Linked DNA regions of Homo sapiens. The protein of the gene in region 1 interacts with the protein of each later gene in a pairwise test. Each region holds a gene or a part of one and is shown on either strand. Other genes may lie near its edges. The genes, in order: MAL and TMEM213.

Region 1 (2,715 bases):
CGATGTAAAGTCACACCTTTCAACTCACGGTATCAACTGCATCCGTCTGTGAGAGAGAAAGAAGTTCGTTACTCAGGATTCAATCCCAGACCCGCCCAACCACAGCATGCCCAGTCCAGGGGATACTTGGGTACAGGGAGGCACCTCACACCCTCTCTCACACAGCCTGGTTTTGGAAGCAGCCAGCCTGCCTCACATCCACTGTGTGGCTACTAATTAGGGTCTGTTCCAAGCTGAGCTCCTCCCTCTCTCCTTTGTGGGTGGCGGAGCTGCTTTGCCAAAGGGACCCCAGGGATGGGTGGAAGTCGCCTGGGGCGAGATGGAAATTTCTGGAGAAATCTGGAGGTTTCTAGATTATACAATGGTGGGCAGTGATGGCTACAGTTTAGGGAGAGGGCTTTCTGAAGCCAAAATTTGCCCATTCGTGCCCAGCTCTACGTGTTCCCAGTGGGCCATTTCTTGACCCCACTTGGAAAATGAGTCTCCACTGCTCTTCCTGCTGGGGACTTCCAAGGTGCTTCTGCCAAAGGCTTTCATTGGTCTGGAATGCCCACCTTTTATGGAGGGCTGCCCACTGGTGTCTGACTGCTCCTGCCCAGATACGTTCTCTTAAATGTGTTATTCAATAATTCAGCTTACTCACCGCCTCCAGGCAATGAGGGAAAGGGCTTGGCCAGGTGTAGGGGCAGGAGAGCAGGCACCCTGAGGGCTGGGATTGATGAGCATTTTCAGGAGTCACAGAGGCGTAGCCGCCCTAAATGGACGTCGTGCCTGAGCTGGAAACTCTTGACCCCTAACCAAGGTCACAAAACCAGGTGCAGAGATTGGACTTGGCAGCAGGCAGGCCTTCAGGGAGTAGGGTGATGGGAGCAGACAGTGCCCAGGAGGACACAGCAAGTCCCCAGAAAGCAGGGCCATCGCTCCAAGGGCCACAGTGGCTGACTGGATGGTCCCAACAGTAAGGCCCCTCCTTTAGACAAAAGCTCAAAATCCCTTCTCCCCTTCTCTGTCCCTCACTTCCTATGAAGTCTGGCTCTCTCAGCCACACCTGTGATATTAAGAATCCTAAAACAAAATAATGATAGGGTGAGAATGTCCAGGCAGCATGGAGACTTTCACCAGGGCCAGCAAACCCAGGTATTTACAATCTCTCAACCGAGCTACCAGGACCACAGCTGGAGGGCGCTGGTCTCACTGGTGTTGGGGGAGGAAGTTGTCCCTGGAGAGTTACCTGCCTGAGATGCTTTCATTGGAGGGGTCTTTGAGGACTCCATCTCAAGTCAGCCGAAACCTCAAGCTGAGACGAATGTGATGCTGGGTGATAGTGGAGAGTCTTACCTTCCACACCAGATCCAGGAGACTGTTAGGTCACATGGAGCTCTGTACTGAGAGGATTTGGTGCACACCTGGGCTCAGCAGGGAGGGCGTCCATGTGAGGGTGAGAAGCAATGACAGCCCAAGCTCTCTGGGTCTGGCCCCCCCTACGCCACGTGGGGCTGGATGCAGTGCAGACGCTGTGCCTCGCCCTCCCTACACAAACCCATTAACGGCCATTTCTCTTGGTTCCAGGTGTTCTCCTACATAGCCACTCTGCTCTACGTGGTCCATGCGGTGTTCTCTTTAATCAGATGGAAGTCTTCATAAAGCCGCAGTAGAACTTGAGCTGAAAACCCAGATGGTGTTAACTGGCCGCCCCACTTTCCGGCATAACTTTTTAGAAAACAGAAATGCCCTTGATGGTGGAAAAAAGAAAACAACCACCCCCCCACTGCCCAAAAAAAAAAGCCCTGCCCTGTTGCTCGTGGGTGCTGTGTTTACTCTCCCGTGTGCCTTCGCGTCCGGGTTGGGAGCTTGCTGTGTCTAACCTCCAACTGCTGTGCTGTCTGCTAGGGTCACCTCCTGTTTGTGAAAGGGGACCTTCTTGTTCGGGGGTGGGAAGTGGCGACCGTGACCTGAGAAGGAAAGAAAGATCCTCTGCTGACCCCTGGAGCAGCTCTCGAGAACTACCTGTTGGTATTGTCCACAAGCTCTCCCGAGCGCCCCATCTTGTGCCATGTTTTAAGTCTTCATGGATGTTCTGCATGTCATGGGGACTAAAACTCACCCAACAGATCTTTCCAGAGGTCCATGGTGGAAGACGATAACCCTGTGAAATACTTTATAAAATGTCTTAATGTTCAATACATTTGTTGGGTGTTTTTTGGGTTTGGGTTGAATTCCTCAGCATCAAGAATACCATCAATTCAGCTTTCTTTCTGAGGAATCCTTTGACTTAACCTGAATCTCAAGAGACAGCATCAGGTGGCAGTTCAGACGACGGACACTGTGTGTGCCAGGCCACTGCACTCTCAGAGCCCGGTGCTGGGGAGCCCACCCTCCCAGCTACCTGCCCAGATGGCTTCCCCTCTCTCTGGAAACTGGCCAAGTGCCAGCCAGGGGCAGCTTCTCCTTCCTACAAGACACAACAGTCTGTGCCCCACTAGAACCTCCTTCCACCAAAAGAAAACACGGTGCACAAGTTTTCATTCACTCATTGTGAAGCTCATCAGCGTGTTCCTGGGCAGTCTGCTTTGTTCCCATTGTGTGGATAATACATTATTTTAGAATTTCCTCGGGCCACTCCATAGGAGAGAAAGGAGAGGAAATTACAGAGTGAAAGGAAGTACGGTGACAAGGGGTGAATGCCATGTTTCAAGTCTGAGATGTCTGGGTTGA
Region 2 (3,455 bases), on another chromosome or scaffold:
TCCCTGGCGTGTTCTAGGGGAAGGCAGTGAAGGCTAAAACTTGGGCACCGGCAGGGAGAATAGGTGGGACAGGAGAGCCGTGGAAGACAGGATGAAGCCAGAAGGAGAGCTGGAGAAGGACCTGAGGTGGGGGTGAAGATGGTGGGAGTGTCAAGGGGATTCTCACATTTTTATTTTTAACTTTAAAAAGTTTTTAAACAGAAACAAGGTCTTGCCATCTTGCCCAGGCTGGTCTCGAATTCCTGGGCTAAAGTGATCCTCCTGTCTCAGTCTCTCAAAGTGCTGGGATTACAGGCATGAGCCACCATGCCCACCTGATCCTCACATTCTTTTTTTTTTTTTTTTTTCTGATACAGAGTCTTGCTCTGCCGCCCAGGCTGGAGTGCAGTGGCATGATCTTGGCTCACTGCAACCTCCGCCTCCGAGGTTCAAGAGATTCTCCTGCCTCGGCCTCCCAAGTAGCTGGGATTACAGGTGTGCACCACCACACCTGGCTAATTTTTGTATTTTTAGTAGAGACAGGGTTTCACCATGTTGGCCAGGCTGATCTGGAACTCCTGACCTTGAGTGATCTGCCCACCTCTGCCTCCCAAAGTGCTGGGATTACAGGCATGAGCCACCATACCTGACTGATTCTCAGATTCTGAAATGACAGTTAAGCCCAGGACTCAAGCCAGGGACAGAAGCAGATAACCTGGTTTTGGTGAGAAGGTTATGCACTTGCTTCTGAAAATGTTGATGATGAGACTAAGTCTTATAGTTTCTTGTGCACCTCCCTTGGTGCCTAGAAGAAAGGTTAAAACAGGATACATTACAGAGGGACTATCTTGAGAGAGGAGTTACCTGGGCACAGCCCAGGGGCCCTTGGGAGTGACATGCAAGGGCAGCACTGGCTTGCCTTATTTGGTTCTCCCGCTCTTTCTTCTTTCCCTTGTAAAAGTAACTGAAGCTTAAAGGTGAAAATGACTTAAATAATAGAAACCATGTTAGCCTTACTCCCCTTCCCCATTAGCCACAAATTGGTGGCGATCACCATTTTGTGCACCGAGCCTGGGTCTCACGCTTGCAAGTCCTTGGGCTCATCTGGAGTCAGCTTCATCAGTTTGTCCACACAGAGCAGGATGAGGGTGAGGAACCAGAGGCTCCAGCCAACAGCTGCCGCGATCCAGCCGTACTCGTCCACTCCTGTGCGGCAGCACCGGGCTGCTTGTGGGCAGAAGTCCACGTCTGGTGGGGAAGGGACAGCAAGGACGACGGCATGCACCACCAGCCCTGCCCAGGCTTCTCTACCATTAATATTAACAGAACAATCACAGCACGGTAGCTGACACTGATGAGGCCTACTACGTGCCATGCACTGTGCTGCGTGCTTTTACACGTTAGCTTATGCCTTCCTCACAAAGCGACAGGTGCGACTTTTATTCCCATTTTACATGAAGAAACTGAGGCTGTAATTTGCCCAAGATCACAAGATGGCAGAAGAACTCAAACGCAAGTCTGCAGGACTCTGAAGCCATACTCTTAACCTCTATGTATTATTCCCTAATACCCCTTCCTTTTTTTTTTTTTTCTTTTTGAGACAGAGTCTCACTCTGTTGCCCAGGCTGGAGTGCAATGGCATGATCTCAGCTCACTGCAACTTCTGCCTTCTGGGTTCAAGCAATTCTCCTGCCTCAGCCTCCCAAGTAGCTGGGATTACAGGCACGCACCACCACACCCAGCTAATGTTTTGTATTTTTAGTAGAGACTGGGTTTTGCCATGTTGGCCAGGCTGGTCTTGAACTCCTGGCCTCAAGTGATCCACCCACCTGGGCCTCCCAAAGTGCTGGTATTACAGGCATGAGCCACCACGCCCAGCCTATCCTTCGTTTTAAGTGCCTAAGTTAATGCATTCGGTCATTCAATGAGGGCAGGATAAAGGGAACCAGACAAAATAAAGTGGAACTTTCTCTTTTTTTTTTGAGAGGGAGTCTCACTGTGTTGCCCAGGCTGGAGTGCAGTGGTGCAATTTCGGCTCACAGCAACCTCTGCCTCCCAGGTTCAAGCAATTCTCCTGTCTCAGCCTCCCTAGTAGCTGGCACTACAGGCGCATGCCACCACATCCAGCTAATTTTTTTCTATTTTTAATAGAGACAGGGTTTCACCATATTGGTCAGGCTGGTCTCAAACTCCTGACCTTAGGTGATCCACCTGCTTCATCTTCCGAAAATGCTGGGATTACAGGCATGAGCCACTGCGCCCAGCTGCAAAACTTTCTATTAGCTAGACATGCATAATAGTGGTTGCTCTATGAATTACTGAGCGCCTTGTGGCTAGAAGTAGGCAAGAAGAGGAAAAACGTGCATAGAAGAAGAAGAAATATGTATGCCAAGGACGCCAAAACCAAGCTGTTGCATTGGGTGGAAGTTGGACTAGATGATTTCTTATGGCCTTTCCACCTCCAAACTTCTTCAAGCATTTGAACCTAGGGCATTGTTAGCTGCTGACCTGGGATGGGTCATTAAAGCAATCTGTGTCAAAGATTGTGCACCTAGATGGGGATCAGAGCCAAGAAAGCCTTTCAGACCTGCTCTGCAAATAGTTCTGGGACAAACCACACTGGTGCACAGGAAGGCCAGGCAGGCCCTTGCCCACTTGACACCAATCAACGGAAAGCGGGGAGGCCTTTGTTTCCCTCCCAGGCTGAGGGCCAGTTCTGGGGTTAGAGCAGTTGGCAGGAGAAGCTTACTGAGGCACTGCTCCAGGGTCCCAGGGTCTGGGTGGTGAGCGGTCAAGCTTGAGCTGTTGCTGCTGCTTGCTTCTGGAAGAAAAGATAGGAGATAGTCTGAGGCACTGGCAAAAGCTATTCCCAGGCATAGATTTTGAAATGTTTTTTGTAAATCAGTAGTGAGTATTATGAAAGTATTATAGAAGCTCCCGCATGGGCATATTGAGGCTTTCTGCAACAAAGCTAACTCCCTGTTATGGACCGAATTATGTTCCCCTCTCCCAAGTTTCATATATTGAAGTCCTAACCCCAATGTGATTGTATTTGGAGATGGGACATTCGAAGAGGCAGTTAAGCTTAAATGAGGTCCTATGGGTGGGCCCTAATCCAATATGGCGGGGTCCTTATAAGATGAGGAAGAGGCCAGGTGCAGTGGTTCACACCTGTAATCCCAGCATTTTGGGAGGCCGAGGTGGGCAGATCACCTGAGGTCAGGAGTTCAAGAACAGCCTGGCCAACATGATGAAACCCTGTCTCTACTAAAAATACAAAAGCAGCCGGGCGTGGTGGTGCATGCCTGTAATCCCAGCTACTTGGGAGGCTGGGGCAGCAGAATTGCTTGAACCCAGGAGGCGGAGGTTCAGTGAGCTGAGATCACACCATTGCACTCCAGCCTGGGTGACGAGTGAAACTCCGTCTAAAAAAAAAAAAAAAAGAAGAAGAAGAAGAAGAAGAAGAAGAAACATCA

Evidence for each region.
Region 2: the proteins of MAL (region 1) and TMEM213 interact in a two-hybrid assay, tested with the Homo sapiens proteins (one large-scale study listed by BioGRID).

What each region holds. Positions count from the first base shown.
Region 1 is NC_000002.12:95,051,812-95,054,526, forward strand, and holds the end of MAL (myelin and lymphocyte protein), read left to right. Parts: intron 1-1,569; coding exon 1,570-1,644; 3' UTR 1,645-2,181; downstream 2,182-2,715. UniProt on the Homo sapiens protein: May be involved in vesicular trafficking from the Golgi apparatus to the cell membrane. Plays a role in the maintenance of the myelin sheath, and in axon-glia and glia-glia interactions.
Region 2 is NC_000007.14:138,800,672-138,804,126, reverse strand, and holds part of TMEM213 (transmembrane protein 213 precursor), read right to left. Parts: intron 2,801-3,455; coding exon 2,729-2,800; intron 1,228-2,728; coding exon 1,058-1,227; 3' UTR 1-1,057.